Regions from separate parts of the Homo sapiens genome. Here region 2 is linked to region 1. The links come from fine-mapping of genetic effects on gene expression. Tissue or cell type: whole blood. Region 1 holds a variant in brackets; the other region holds the start of a gene. All regions are shown on one strand. Distances are from middle to middle.

The links. PIP is the estimated chance that this variant, and not a neighbour inherited with it, causes the effect.
Region 2: TACC1 starts here. The variant in region 1 is fine-mapped to the expression of TACC1 in whole blood (INTERVAL, PIP above 0.99).

What each region holds. Positions count from the first base shown.
Region 1 is chr8:38,875,404-38,883,617 of GRCh38, forward strand. No RefSeq gene overlaps it. Among named protein-coding and RNA genes, the nearest start is that of PLEKHA2, 22 kb to the right of the region's middle. The variant A/G (reference allele first, on the strand shown) is at 4,890.
Region 2 is chr8:38,783,359-38,791,572 of GRCh38, forward strand. It overlaps TACC1 (transforming acidic coiled-coil containing protein 1), which reads left to right and starts at 3,878. Exons shown (of 13, transcript NM_006283.3): 1 at 3,878-4,385; 2 at 5,346-5,461. The coding sequence starts at 4,225. RefSeq lists an enhancer at 3,482-3,561 and a silencer at 3,602-4,141.

The sequences.
Region 1 (8,214 bases):
TAGCTGGGACTACAGGCACGCCACCACACCCAGCTAATTTTTAATTTTTTTGCGGGGGGGCGGGGACAGGGTCTCGTTCTGTTGCCAGGCTGGAGTGCAGTGGCGTGATCTCAGCTCACTGCAACCTCCACCTTCCGGGTTCAGGTGATTCTCCTGCCTCAGCCTCCTGAGTGACTGGGACTACACGTGCATGCCACCATGCCCAGCTAATTTTTGTATTTTTAGTAGAGACGAGGTTTCACCATGTTAGCCAGGATGGTCTCAATCTCTTGACCTCATGATCCACCCGCCTCGGCCTCCCAAAGTGCTGGGATTACAGGTGTAAGTCACCGCACCCGGCCATTTTTAAATGTTTTTGTAGAGATGTGGTCTTGCTATATTGCCCAGGCTCGTCTTGAACTCCTGGCCTCAAGTTCCTCCTACTTCAGCCTCCCAAATTGCTGGGATTACAGGTGCAAGCCACCATGTCCGGCTTTAGCAGGAATTATGAAGTGACAAATTCTGTCTCTGACAGTCCTGCTTCAAGCAGCTAATGCATCCCCTGGTACCATCTGTGATTGGATGAGGACTGTGGAAATGGTGCGGACACTGTAGAATGATGAGAGGTGGCTAACAAGTAAATAGGCTTCAAAATAGCTTGTGCCCCATAGGTATTTTTACTTGCTCAAACTCCTTCCAAGTTCCCTCCTTGCCAATGGGGCTCAACGTGTGGATGTAGCTTATGTTGGGAATACTGGCAGCTCAAAGACAGATCTGCTATAAGTCTCAACTGACATGTTCATTAAAATCCTCATGTTTGTAATCCTAGCACTTTGGGAGGCTGAAGCAGGTGAATCACTAGGTCAGGATGGCCAACATGGTGAAATCCCATCTCTACTAAAGATACAAAAAAAAAAAAAAATTAGCAGGGCGTAGTGGCGGGTGCCTGTAATCCCAGCTACTCAGGAGGCTGAGGCAGGAGAATTGCTTGAACCTAGGAGGCGGAGGTTGCAGTGAGCTGAGATCATGCCACTGCACTGCAGCCCGGGTGACAGAGTAAGACTCCATATAAAAAAAAAAAAAATAGAAATTCTCACTGAGCTTCAAGCATCTGGTTTCCTGCTCCTTTGGCAAAACTATCATGTGTAATCTAAATATGCAAAACAGGGGAAATCCGTTCTTTTTACACAATAAAGTACTCCAAGCTCTGTGCTCAATGGTAGGGAATAAATATGAGTAACAAAGGGTCATGTGTGAACAGGGAGAGATGCATGTAAACAGACACGTGCTGTCAAACATTGAGGATGCAGAGGAGGGAATCATCCATTTAAAACAATTTTTTTTTCTTTAGTGATGGGGGTCTCACTATGTTGCCCATGCTGGCCTCCAACTCCTGGGCTCAAGCTATCCTCCTCCCTCAGCCTGCCAAGTAACTGGGATTACAGACATGAGCCACCATGCCCTGTGGGAACAGTCCATTCTATCTGGGGGGTAGTGATCAGGAAAGATGAGGTGACATTTGACCTTCGGCTTGCAGGATGTGTAGATTTTTGTTTGATGATGGATGGCGTAGGGAATGCTGTACCCAGAGAGATGCATCCTGAGAAAAGACATGGCAGAACCCACGAGGCAACCTGGAAGTTGCTTGGCATGGCCAGGCAAAGGAGATAAAGAGACACAAGGAAAAATAAGGATGGAGCGAAACATGGGGCGAGAGCATTCAGGGCCTTGTAGGCCAAGCTAAGCAGTTTAGGTGTTAACAGCAGGCAAATGGGAGCCACTGGAAATTTTTAAAACCCAGAGAGACATGATCAGATACTTGTCCTGGAAAGACCAACCTTGAAGCCATGTTGAAGAAGGATTGAAGAGATATGGAAGGCCCAGGGAGACAGGTCACCCTCCTGATTAACACTTTTCAACAGCTTAAGGTAAAATCCAGACTTCTGGCTGGGCATGGTGGTTCATGCCTGGAATCCCAGCCCTTTGGGAGGCCGAGGTGGGTGGATCACCTGAGGCCAGGAGTTCAAGACCAGCCTGGGCAACATGGTGAAACCCCATCTCTACTAAAAAAAAACCAAAAAAACAAAAAACAGCTGGGTGTGGTGGTGCATGCCTATAGTCCCAGCTACTCAGGAGGCTGAGGCAGGAGAATCACTTGAACCCGGGAGGTGGAGGTTGCAGGGAGCTGAGATGGCACCACTACACTCCAGCCTGGTGATGGAGCGACACTCTGTCTCAAAATAAATAAACAATAATAAAAGATCCAGACTTCTCATTGTTGCCCAGAAGGGCCCTGCCCACTTCTCCATGCCACCTGGTTCCACTTTTCCTCTCAGAGCAATATGGCAACCGAAGCCCCTCCAATATGGCGAGATCTTTTCACCTCAGGGCCTTGCATTTGTTTGCTGTTTCTCTTTCTTGGAGTGTTTGTCTTTGAGCTCTCTCTGCGAAACTTTCTTCTCAGTCTCAATTTTAATTTCCCCTTCTTCAAGCAAACAGTTATATTCTTCATATTGCTCTGATACATCATAAACATGGGATTCTTTTGTTTGATTATTGTCTTTCGTACCCACAAGCTTCATGAGGGAAGGACTCATTCCTATCTTATTCACCAACATGCCCCCAGAGCCTGAATGAGTGAATGACCCAAACAAGGACTAACATGAGCCTGAACTAAGGCGAGGAGGAGCCAGGAGCAGGGAGGAGGAGATGGAAGGGGTGTAGGCAGTGGGAATCGATACGGCTCGATGACTAATTGGCTGTGGGTGGTGAGAGAGAAGGAGTGACAATGACATTTCGGTTCCTAGCTTGAGTGACGGGGTGGAAGTTATGTCTTTATTATAGAGACAGGGAATGCAAGAGAGAGAAGTTTATGAGACAAAGTCAACAAGGCGAGTTTTAGGTATATTAGGTTTGGGGCATTTGGAGGTAGAAGACCAGCGTGCAATTCGATACAGGAATGTAGAGAGAAGTAGAAAGGCTCAAGCTGCAGACACATACTCAGGAGCTGTCCACATGCATGATGATTGCAGTCAAAGGAAAGACATCCATCAGAGGAAAATGGAAAGGGTATGGGTGCAAAGGAGAGGAGACATGAGTGCAGTTTCTTTCTGAGAATGCATCTCTCTGAGGGATAGAAGGGACATTGAGCTGCAGGGACCTGCCAGCCTTCCCCGTGCCTCCTAGGCGTGGTTTGCTCCCAGGCTGACTAGATGAGAACCCATCATGGCAGAGCTCAGAGAAGAGCATGTAGAAGGCCAAGTGGGAGACATCTGCCCTTGCCTGTCCTCTCTGAGAAAAAGACAAAGGGTTTCAGTCACCCTGGGACCAATTAAAGAATGATATCCAGGCCAAGTGCAGTGAGTCATACCTGTAATTCCAGCACTTTGGGAGGCTGAGGCAAGAAGATTACTTAATCCCAGAAGTTTGAGACCAGCCTGGGCAACATAGTGAGACCTCATCCCTACAAATATTTTAAAAAATTAGCTGGGCATGGTGGTATGCACCTGTGGTCCCAGCTACTCTGGAGGCTAGGTGGGAGGATTGCATGAGCCCAGGAGGTGGAGGCTGCAGTGAGCTGTGATTGCACCACTGCACTCCAGCCTGGGCAACGGAGTAAGACCCTGTCTCAAAAAACAAAACAAAATAAAACAAACAAACAAACGAACAAAAAAAAGAGTAAGACCCTGTCTCAAAAAAAAAAAAAAAAAAAAAAAAAGGCATGACGTGCACAACAGCTTTTAACCTGCTGCACTGAACATGGGGATATGTGGGCAGGAATTTTATCAATACAGTTGGTGCAGTTGAGACCAAGAACCACATCCTCAGTCCAAACAATACTGTCTCCTTTCAGAAGTCTACTCTCTGTAAGAGTACATTCATACAGGTCCACTTACAGAGTGCCCTATTTTACCTGCTTATTTAAATAAGGTGTATTTCAAATAACAATAGGTTTAACTCTTCAATGGAGAAAGGAGAATATAAATCATCATCATCATCTTCTAAAACAATACTACAATGAGCTTTTTTTCCTCCTAGTTTTTTCCCCCTGACCACAGGCTTTATAAAGCATAGTCAAAATCATATATATATATATATGGGCATATATATATACATATATATATATGGGCATATATATATACCCATATATATACATATATATGGGTATATATATACACATATATATACATATATATGGGTATATATATACACATATATATATGGGTATATATATACATATATATGGGTATATATATATACATATATATATATGGGTATATATATATACATATATATATGGGTATATATATATACATATATATGGGTATATATATATACATATATATGGGTATATATACATATATATGGGTATATATATATGGGTATATATATATACATATATATATGGGTATATATATATACATATATATATGGGTATATATACATATATATATATGGGTATATATATATACATATATATATGCATTTATGTGTGTGTGTGTATGAAATGTATCTTGTGGCCAGGCACAGTGGCTCACACCTGTAATCTCAGCACTTTGGGAGGCCGAGTGGATCATTTGAGTTCAGGAATTCGAGACCAGCCTGGCCAGTATGGTGAAACCCCACCTCTACTAAAAATACAAAAATTAGCCGGGCGTGGTTGCGGGAGCCTGTAGTCCCAGCTACTAGAGAGGCCGAGGCAGGAGAATGGCTTGAACCTGGGAGGCGGAGCTTGCAGTGAGCCGAGATCGCACCACTGCACTCCAGCCTAGGAAACAGAGCAAGACTGTCTTAAAAAATAATAATAAAATAAAATGTATCTTGCTTTTTAAAAAATAACCCATATGACAACATATAATTTTTCAAAATTATTTTACTTTTATTAATTATGGTACATCATAGTTGTACAT[A/G]TTTATGGGGTACATATGATGTTTTTTATTTTAGAGTTGGGGTCTTGCTATGTTGTCCAGGCTGGTCTCGAACTCCTGGTCTCAAGTGATCCTCTTCTTTCAGCCTCCCAAGTAGATAGGACTGCAAGTGAGAGGCACTGTGCCTGGCATCTTGCTTTTTTTGGCTAAACATTATCTTGTAAGCTGTTTTTTCCATACACCCTCAGCATTTTGATGATGGTATGATACTCTTTTCCCAATTGTTGAACATTTAGGCCATTTCTAATTGTTCTCTATTTTAAATATATATAATTATTTTAAAAATCATTGTCTATTAGTTTGCTAGGGCCACCATAACAAAGTACAACAGACCTAGGTGGCTTAGGCAACAGAAATTTTTTTTCTCACTGTCTGGAGGCTGGAAGTCCAAGATCAGGGTGGGAGCAGGGTTGGTTTCTGCCCAGGCCCCCTTCCTGGGCTTGCCATTGGTCACCTCCTTCCTGTGTCTGCACTGTCTTTCTTCCGTATTTGGGCATCCCTGGTGTTTCTTTATGTGTTCAAATTTCCTCTTCTTATATAAACACTACTCAGATTGAATTAGGGCCTATTTTAATAGACTCTGTTTAACTTAATCACCTCTATAAAGGCCCTACTTCCAAATACAGTCAATTTTGAGTTACTGGCGTTAGGGTTTTAACATGTGAATTAGGGGTTGGGGGGAGGCATAATTCAGTCCCATAACACATTATGTTCAATTTTTTCTCACTTGCATTTTAGATCATTTTCTTTGGATAGATTTCCAGAGTGGGAATCACTGGGCCAAATGATAAAAATATTTTAAGGCTCTTGAAAACTGCTTTTCCAAAGAATATAACAATTGGTTCCACAGCAGCCTGCTTAAATTAAAAAAAAAAAAAAGTAAATGGACTGGGTGCGGTGGCTCACACCTATAATCTCAGCACTTTTGGAGGCCCAGGAGGGCGGATCACTTGAGGTCAGGAGTTTGAGACCAGCCTGGCCAACATGGCGAAACCCTGTCTCTATTAAAAATATGAAAATTAGCTGGGTGTGGTGGCGGGTGCCTGTAATCCCAGCTACTTGGGAGGCTGAGACAGGGGAATCACTTGAACCTGGGAGGCGGAGGTTGCAGTGAGCTGAGATCACTGCACTCCAGCCTGGGCAACAGAGTGAGACTCCATCTCAAAAAACAAGCAAGCAAATAAACAAACAAAAAAACAAATAAAAAAAACAATTTTGTGAGCACTGCCTTCAGCAAGAAAAGGGCAAGGGGAAACAAAGTCATGAAAAGCTTGAACTGAATCTGTCCCAGGGCACCAAAAATTCTGCTTCCCATGGAGCTCTTGGAAATGTTTTTTTTTTTTTTTTTTCAGAGACAGGGTCTCACTCTGTCACCCAGGCTGGAATGCAGTGGTGCAATCATAGCTCACTGCAGCCTCCAATTCCTGGGCTCAAGTGATCCTCCACCTCACTCTCCCAAGAAGATGGGACTACAGGTGTAGAATCATGCCTGATTAATTTTGAAAATTTTTTGTAGGGTGGGAGTTTTGATCCATTGCCCAGGTTGGCCTCAAACTCCTGGGCTCAAGTGATCCTCCACCTCACTCTCCCAAGAAGATGGGACTACAGGTGTAGAATCATGCCTGATTAATTTTGAAAATTTTTTGTAGGGTAGGAGTTTTGATCCATTGCCCAGGTTGGCCTCAAACTCCTGGGTTCAAGCAATCCTCCCTTCGGGGCTGCACAAAACAGTGGGATTACAAGTGTGAGCTACCTTGCCTAGCTGTTGAAATGTATCTTTATTAAAAATCAAAATATAACCAGGAAACAGAAAGTGAGTATATGAACGGTGAAATTGTTACATATCCTATCTCATGCCATTCTTATTAGTTGACTATTGTCTTTTACTGAAAAGCAACTCATGCCAGAATCAACAAGAACTTTTGTTTTGTTTTGTTTTGTTTTGAAATGGAGTTTCGCTCTTGTTGCCCAGGCTGGAGTGCAATGGCGTGATCTCGGCTCACTGCAATGTCTGCCCCCCAGGTTCAAGTGATTCTCCTGCCTCAGCCTCCCAGGTAGCTGGGATTACAGGCGCCTGCCACCATGCCCGGCTAACTTTTGTATTTTTATTAGAGACGGAGTTTCATCATGTTGGCCAGGCTGGTCTTGAACTCCTGACCTCAGGTAATCCACCTGCCTTGGCCTCCCAAAAGTGTTAGAAGTGAGCCGCTGCGCCTGGCCTAACAAGAGCTTTAAGTATGGCAAACTTGTACCTTTGAGGTGTAAAATTAACTCAGCATGATAATTCCTGGCCATTACCTACCTCACAACTTCAAACAGTTTTTTCAAGAACTAGGCATGCAGAAATAAATGGTGGATTTCATTGAAACCTAAAGGCATTTTTGAATGACATTGTCACCAACCATTAATTGGTTCAGGACCTTTGCAATTTTTATTTAACTTGAGTTGTCTTTTTTTTACCATGCTTTTTTCAATGCATTGCTCAGTATTTTTTAAGTTTCATGAACGCATGCTCAATTCATTAGATTCCATGACTGTAATATTTTGATGCAGCATTTTGCAAATTAAGTTGCATTTTCAGAGCAGTTCTGTATGTTCTGTGATACCATCTTTTCAAAGAGAAACCTTTAAAACCTTAAAAACAAAAGAAAGAAAAACGAGGCCGGGTGCAGTAGCTCACACCTGTAATCCCAGCACTTTGGGAGGCCAAGGCGGGCAGATCACGAGGTCAGGAGATCGAGACCATCCTGACTAACACGGTGAAACTCCGTCTCTACTAAAAATACAAAACATTAGCCGGGCGTGGTGGCGGGCGCCTGTAGTCCCAGCTACTCGGGAGGCTGAGGCAGGAGAATGGCGTGAACTTGGGAGTCGGAGCTTGCAGTGAGCCGAGATCACACCACTGCACTCCAGCCTGGGCAACACAGAGAGACTCCATCGCAAAAAAAAAAAAAAAAAAAAAAAGAGAAAAAAGAAAAACAAAACTGCCCCAAACCATAGAAAACTCTTAGGTGTGCGGTCCTTTTTCTTGTTCTCATTTTTTTTCCCTTTCCTTTTTCTTGTCAATAACAAACATTTGCCAGAGTCTACAGATGCTAGCTAAGGAAGGGCTGAGATGGGGTGGAAATGGGTCGGAGGTGGGTGTCGGAGGGGACTGAGGGTGGGGTGGTTACATCTACAGATCTGGTGATATTTTGTCTTTTAATAAAGATGCATTTCAACAGCCAGGCAAGGTGGCTGCCACCTGTAATCTCACAGCTTTGGGCAGCCCAGGAGGGAGGACTGCAAACTCCCAGGAGTTTGAGGC
Region 2 (8,214 bases), 92 kb before region 1:
GCCAAGTCTTTAATAAATGCAGTTTGGATCTTTGTTAATCTTCCTGGAACTCTGAAAGAGTATTTTCTTTTTTTTTTTTTTGAGATGGAGTCTCACTCTGTTGCCCAGGCTGAAGTACAGTGGCATGATCTCGGCTCACCGCAATCTCTGCCTCCCCGGTTCAAGTGATTCTCCTGCCTCAGCCTCCCGAGTAGCTGGAATTACAGGCGCCTGCCACCACACCTGGCTATTTTTATATTCTTAGTAGAGATGGAGTTTCACCATGTTGGCCAGGCTGGTCTCATACTCCTGACCTTAAGTGATCTGCCTGCCTTGGCCTCCCAAAGTGTGGGATTGCAGGCATGAGCCACCGCACCCAGCCTGAAAGAGTATTAGCTATGAACATACCCTGACACCTCTCTTTTAAAAAATTAGAAAGGAGCTTCTCTTTATAATTTTCTGTATAAATGCATTGTACACAGTCCTGATTTCGGTGTTTGGGTAGTGGAGGGAAGATTGTAATTCTATAGATGTTTGTAGTCTACAGGTAAAGGATAATTAGGTAAATATCTGATCTTGCAAGGTTAAGACTGTCATGTTAACATATTTGAATGCGGTCAGATGCTGTTATTGGCAATGTTGTCTTGATTAGACATCATCATGCCCTTGCCTGGTTAGACTGAGGTAGGGCAGAAAAGCAGATAGGGTGGCCACAGCCTCCTGTTGGCAATGGCACGTCTTCACTGACAGGGCTAGAGTGTTCCTAGTTGTGACTTTGCAACCTGTACCAGGTAAGAACGAAGCCAGGACTAGGAGCAGCAGACTGAGAGGAGTGGTCCAGCTAATGGACTCATATTCATTACTGCTTACACTAAGTTCAAGAACTTGCAGAGGAGTGATTTTCAGAAACCTTAGGCATTTATTTGCTAGTCCAGTCTCAAGAAGTTGCTGCAGGCCGGGTGCGGTGGCTCACACCTATAATCCCAGAACTTTGGAAGTGGGTGGATCACCTGAGGTCAGGAGTTCAAGACCAGCCTGGCCAACATGATGAAACCCCGTCTCTACTAAAAAATAAAAAAATTAGCTGGGCATGGTGGCAGGAACCTGTAATCCCAGCTACTTGGGAGGCTGAGGCAGGGAGAATCGCTTGAACCCAGGAGGCGGAGGTTGCAGTCAGCTGAGACTGCACCACCGTGCTCCAGCCTGGGTGACAGAGTGAGACTCCATCTCAAAAAAAAAAAAAAGTAAATTGCTGCATAGGTGAGGCTTAATCTTACTGGGGCCATCACTTGGTCCTGGGTTCTGTTATTTTCTGGCCCAGAAACTAGATTTCCCCAGGGGGAGTCAGGCTTTAGGAATTTATGTCACCTTAGCCAAACTCACAAGGACTATTTGTAAACTAGAATGTTTGTTTTTTCTTACATATATATTGAACACCTACTGAGTGTGTGGTTCTGTCCTAATTTCTGGAGGAAGTCCCAAAGGGGGGTAAAGTCCCTTTAGAAGCTTGTGGGACAGATATGTAAATAAATATGTTATATATGGTGTGCTAAGTGTAGAATGGCCTTACATCCTGGTCTTCTGGAGACAGTCCTGGTTTATGCCTATAGTCCCTGTGTAACTATTAAGAATGCTGTCTTTCACTTTCAGATCTAAGGCCACAGGAAGTGTTCTTTATGGATGTTCGGGGTATAGAAATGATAGAAAGGAAGGACAATGAGCCTGCTTCCCCCTGTAGACACTTGAGCTAAGTGCTGAAGGACGTTCGAGCAGCTGAAGCCTGGGAACTTGGGGTGGGCTGGGGTGGGGGAGGAGGTGTGTTCCAGGAATTCGCAAAGCTCCCTCTGCAGGCAAAGGGAGACTGTTCCCGAAGCAGTAAGCAGTTGGTTCAAGCTAGGCACTGTTTCCCAAATTTACCCTGTGATAACAGTTCCCCAGGACACTTAGTGAACACACAGATTTCCAGACTCTGCTGGCAATTTGGATTTTTTTAAGAAGGCTGGCGGATGATTCTTGGGCATATTAAAGATTGACAACGAGTTCTCTACTCACTGTGGCTAGGAATACAAAAGGATGGGCATAGAGGGGAATGGGAACCGAAAGATTAGAGCACGAGTCACTGATCAGCCAGGCAGGGGTGACCTCAGGCAAGAAAACCTTCAGAGGTAAAACCAGGTGGGAGTTATTTACAGTAGATCATGAAAGATGGGGAGTGCGGGAACTATGTCAGTCACCACAGGGATGCAAAGGAATGAAAAGATAAGAGAACTATTCAGGAGGAAGAACAGGTCCTAGTGTATGCTAGTTACTGATTTGCTGGGGTAATATTATTTCCCAGAAACAGAACCCTGTGTCAAATCCAGGAGCCTGGGGGACTGTAGAACCTGAAGTTTTACTGGGTAAGCATAAACCTAAAACTACAACAGTTGGATAAGTGGTGTGATATATTTCACATGGACCTCCTGCCTAGTTCACTTCTTTATAGTCGCTAGAACACTCATGACAATTTATTTCTGGGAAGAAGCCAGGATGAATTCGAAAGCATCCTGACACCCCACCCCTTTCTTTTCTCTAGACTTCAGGTTAACTCCTGCCCTTCGGTTTTGGTAAAACTACCCTGCCAAGCCTTATCTTGTATTTTGCTCCTGTTTTTGTTATCAAATGTGTAAAACAGTCACGATGAATATACATGCCAACTGCTTTCAGAGGCAACGGTTAGTCTCTTGCAAGTTTCAACGTGCACATTTTGGAGCTGCTGTCTCTGTGGGAACCTGCAGGCACCTCATGGATGCACCACAACTCGGAAATTACAGTACCACCTGGAACACCTTATCCAGGCAAGGAGATCATTAAGCCTGGTGTTTGAGGCAATCGATTCACTTGGAAGAAGGTGCTTTGGTGGTTTTGAGAGGAACAATCCCTACATGAAATCCCTCCATGGGAAATGGAGAACATCAGCTATTTCCCATTGCCTTCAAACCTAAAGATGTCGCCAGGCCTCTTGGCTTGTTACTGAAGCAGCGAAATAAGTCAGAAATCAAAGACTTAGAAGTTACGAAAAGAAAATCTCAAAAAGGAGAATGGGGTCAGGCGCGGTGTCAGGCCTGGAATCCTAGCATTTTGGGAGGCAGAGGCGGGAGGATCGCTTGTGGCCAAGAGTTCAAGACCAGCCTGGGCAACATATCGAGACGCCTGTCTGTATTTTAAATAAATAAATATGGAGAATGGGAAACCCATCAGGCTGTAATCTCACAGGGAATTTAGTACCCTTTACCTAAGACAAGACCTGGGCACTTGGGAAGCCTCCCCGAGTGCGGTTTGGGGAGGGGGAGGGCATCTTAAATTCCAGTCCTCGGTCACTCTTGTGGCTTTGCCAAGGGATTTTCAAATCCCGGGAATGCCAGGGATGGAGATGAACAGGCTGAAATCCCCCACGCTGCCAGGGTTAGGGAGGGGAAAACAACAGTCCACAGCGGCCGCGAAGGTTTGTATTTTTTTTTTTTTGGTAACAAGGGGCTTGTGTGCAGTCCAATATCACCATCGCCGTGAAGTCACAGTGGCAAGATGAAAATGTTTAAAAAAATTTTAAAAAGGAATAAGGAAAGAGGAAGAGGACAGCGTGCCCCGGCTCAGAAAACGGTCCTCCTCTGCCCCGGACGCCGGCGGACCTGTGGGGTATGACCGAATCTCCCCGCGCAGCCGGCAAGCCCCGGCCCTCAGTCGGGCCGCGACCAGCGTGACGCCGCGGTAGGGGGATCCGGCGGGCGCGCGGCCGTCTTCAAAGCCCCGGCGCCGCCGCCGCCCCCGCGCGCGCGCGCGAGTAGTACGGTCCGAGGGGGCGGCTTCTGGGGCGCGGCTCCGGCGGCAGCTGATGCGCGCCCCGCCGGCCGGGAGGCGGGAGTCCGCGAGCCGGGAGCGGGAGCAGCAGAGGTCTAGCAGCCGGGCGCCGCGGGCCGGGGGCCTGAGGAGGCCACAGGACGGGCGTCTTCCCGGCTAGTGGAGCCCGGCGCGGGGCCCGCTGCGGCCGCACCGTGAGGGGAGGAGGCCGAGGAGGACGCAGCGCCGGCTGCCGGCGGGAGGAAGCGCTCCACCAGGGCCCCCGACGGCACTCGTTTAACCACATCCGCGCCTCTGCTGGAAACGCTTGCTGGCGCCTGTCACCGGTTCCCTCCATTTTGAAAGGGAAAAAGGCTCTCCCCACCCATTCCCCTGCCCCTAGGAGCTGGAGCCGGAGGAGCCGCGCTCATGGCGTTCAGCCCGTGGCAGATCCTGTCCCCCGTGCAGTGGGCGAAATGGACGTGGTCTGCGGTACGCGGCGGGGCCGCCGGCGAGGACGAGGCTGGCGGGCCCGAGGGCGACCCCGAGGAGGAGGATTCGCAAGCCGAGACCAAATCCTTGAGTTTCAGGCAAGTACACGGCGTCCCCGCTGAGATGCAGACGCGCTTGCCTCCATCCATCTGCGACTCCCTCTGTGTGCGTGTGTGTGGTCGCCACCCGCGAAACCGTCCTCACGGCCGTGCCGCGTCCCTGCCCGGAGCCGGGTCCCCGTGTGCGTCCGAAAGTTCAGGATCTTCTGTCCTCCCGTGGGGTTTCTGGCCCCCGTTTCGCTAGGAGAGTTCCGCACCCAACCCAGAATCTGCAGTCTCTCCGCATCCCCGCTGGCCTCGGTCACTTTCTCTAAGCTTCGACCCCCAGCCCCCGCCCCTCCACACTGGAGCAACGTCACTGATCTAACCCAGTGCAACTTAGGGCCCCCCCGTGGGGAAGAAGTCGCTCCCCGGCCCTTCCCGGGGCCCTACCGTGTACCCAAAACGCAGCCGCGGTGAAGAAGGTCGCGTGATGACAGGCCCCTGGCAGCTGCTGGGAAATGGTGGTCTCTGCCGGGCTGTCATCCGCGTGATTGCGGAAGGCAGGTGACACCATTCTTAGCCTCGGGCCCAGGGAGTTCCAGCAGGTAGAGGCCTACCGAGCAAAGAGGAATGCCTAGCATCGGCCTAACTCGGGGGTGGGACCAGTATTAATTGTTAAAGCCTCTGGGAAAGGGCTCTTGTGACAAAAGGAGTCTGTTGGAAAAGCGCATTTTTCAGGTGTCTGAGGGAAGGATGACCTCGAAAATAAATGGTGCTGGAGAAAAGCTCCAGGGAATGGAGGAGCTTTCAGAGAGACAGGATGCCAGCCTGAGAAACCCAAGGAGGGCACTGCTCAGAGACCGCAGTTGCCTCCCGCAGGTCAGACCCTGCTGAGGACCGGTTGGTTGTGAAGTTAGACAAAAGTGCTGGACTTTTAGCCTCTGTGAATATGTAGATTTCAAAGGGTGTCGGAAATACCGTTGAAAGTGGTAATTCCTCATTTTTCCTCCTTGGCAGCTCGGATTCTGAAGGTAATTTTGAGACTCCTGAAGCTGAAACCCCGATCCGATCACCTTTCAAGGAGTCCTGTGATCCATCACTCGGATTGGCAGGACCTGGGGCCAAAAGCCAAGGTAAAGAAAAACTTGCATTTTTCCTGCCTGTTTTGTTTCAAAAGTTTTGAAAAATATCAATGAAGGAAGGAAAAAAGTGTAAATTTAGGACCATTTAAGAGAGTTTGACTAAGAAAGAGCTGTTTGAAACCTCCTGGCTTATGTATTTTTAGGGGTGTGGTGATCGAGGCTTTCTCCTCTGAGTAGAGTTTGTGCATTTGCAGTATAAGATTATCATTATCAAACATTCCTACTAGGCCTTTCTCCTCAGCCCCTAAAAAAATATGTATAGTAATGAAGTAGGAAGATCATGTTTATATTTGACTTCACAAATTCCTCAGGCTAAGTTGCTTTCTACTGGGGTGTGGCTGGAGACAAAAATTACAGGTAAGACTTGACTTAATTTTTGATAGGGAGGTTCTTAAGAGGCTTTTTCGGAATCACTCACCTCGCCCACTTCCATGCAGGGATGTGGTGAGAGCCCTTCAGTCTACTTAGGAAAACCTGGCACATGGATTCCCTCCCAGCCCCTCAGAGCCCAGCCCTTCATCTGCAGGAGCTTCCGTTGTCTCACTTAATTAGTAGAAACCTTTTTTGTCACACAGCCAGTTCAGAATAAAATTTCACCTATCCCAACAGAATTCATATGCTTATTTACTAAATAGAGTGCACTGTGATTCAGCAGTGAAGTCCTGCTCTCTCGAGCTAACATTGTGGAGGGAGAACCTGTGAAGGGTTAAGCAAAATATCTATGTCAGCTTGTGTGAAGCACTGTGGAGAAAAATAAAGCAGGGGAAGAGAATAGGGAATATGGAGTGGGGATAGGGAAGGCTGAAGGGGAGTTAGTGGGGGCATTCATGATTAGGTGACTTGAACAGAGACCTGAAGGCAGATTGAGGGAGCAGGCCTTGGAGGTTCCTGAGGTGGGAACCCTTCCAGCAGAAGGAGTGGCATCTGCAAAGGTCTGACAGCACCAGCCTGCTGCAGGGAGGCCGTAAGGTGGAGGGTTCATGGTACAGTTTGAGGACCAGCCAGGAGGTCAGTGTGGACTGACTACTCAGAGAGCAGGAGGAGCTGAAGTCAGCGTGGTCAGAGGAGGTCCAGATGCTGCTGCAGTGAGGATTTGGTTTTCAGTAAGGTGGAAAGCCACTGGAGGGCATATGCATTTCCAAGGGCTGCCATAACAGAGTAACTTAGCGGCTTACAATAACAGAAATTATTCTCTCACAGTCCTGGATAATTGAAATCAGAACCAGAAGTCTCAAGTCAAGGTGTTGGCAGGGCCTTGCTCTTCTGAAGGCTCCAGGAAGTCTGTCCTTGCCTCTTCTAGCCTCTGCTGGGTGTCTGCAATCCTTTGTGTTCTTTGGCTTGTGGCAGCAGAACTCCAGTCTCTGTCTCAACACATGGCCATCTTCTCCCTATGTATCTGTCTTACCGTGCCCTTCCTGTGAGGACACCAGTCGTTGAAGTTAGGGCCCACCCTAATCCAGTTTGACCTCATCTTAACTTGGTAACATCTTCAGAGATACTATTTCTAGATAAGGTCACATTCATAGGTACTAGGAGTTGGGACTTTAACATATCATTTTGAGAGACATAATTCAGCCCACAACAGAGAGCTTTGAACAGAGGGATTGTGATTCAGCTTCTTTTGTAAAAGGCTCCCTGGGCTGCTGTGTGGAGAAGGGACTCTAGGATGGAAGTCCTTTTTATGTGGTTTCTCTGTTCCAGTATCTGGCACTGTCACCCTGAAGTGGCAGCGCCAGCTTTCAGTTATCTAGCTACCTAAACTTTGTGCTGATTGTGACTTTCTCCTCTCCCTAATAAGTATTTTTATTGCTTAGCAACTTCTTCGTAGGTTGCCTAGGGAAGTCAAGTTACTCTGGTAATAGACTGCATGATGGAGCTGGAATTATTGGTAAAATGACATCAGCAAAAAGCTGATTTGGTTTTGCTTTAAATTGATAGCTCCATGCTGTGCTTACCCAGCTGAGAATTCAGCAATACCCTCAACTTGCCCTAGGCTGCATTTTGCCATTGTTCTAGGCAGGGACAACATGGGAATAGGCAAGCTTATATACTGGAGAATTTGTGTGCGACGCATAGCTGTGTAGCACTCTCAGTGATGAAGATAACACTTATTCCTCATAGCTTCCCTTTTCTTCCGTAAAGATTGGCAGATCAGAAGGGAGATTTTGAAGCTTGAAAGAACTATTTGGTGGCCTTTCCATCAAATTTAAATAAAGCTCATAAGACACATGTTAAGGAGCTGTTTGAAAGCCTTTTTGAATTGCCATCAGCTTGGGCGGCCCTTCCTCATCGTTTTGTCAGCTGCTAGACTGATTCATCCCGCCAGATTCTTTGCCAATTGAATAGAGGCCTGGATGACCTAGGCCCCCAAAACCACAGAGACCCAATTGTTTGGTCCTTCCTGTACCAGTGACTCTCACATTTTTTTCATTCTCTCTAAAAGGAAAACTTTTAAATGTTTATGGATCATGAAGGCTCTATGGGGTAGTTCATGAATGCAGACTGTAATTGTAGGGGTAGAGGAGTGTCCAGTCCAGGAAACAACCCTGCATATTATGAAGGCTTTCAGTTTAGGGTCTTTAAACAATAGGATGATTGCTCATCAACCTGGTCGTACCCTGACTTCCAGGGTCCTTGGGTGCAACATCCGGAGCTAGTCCAGAGTACCGCCAATGGCCTTGTCACACATACACAGCAAATGTGCAAAGACAGCCAGAGCACAGGTCTGCCTGGAGAGGATTTCA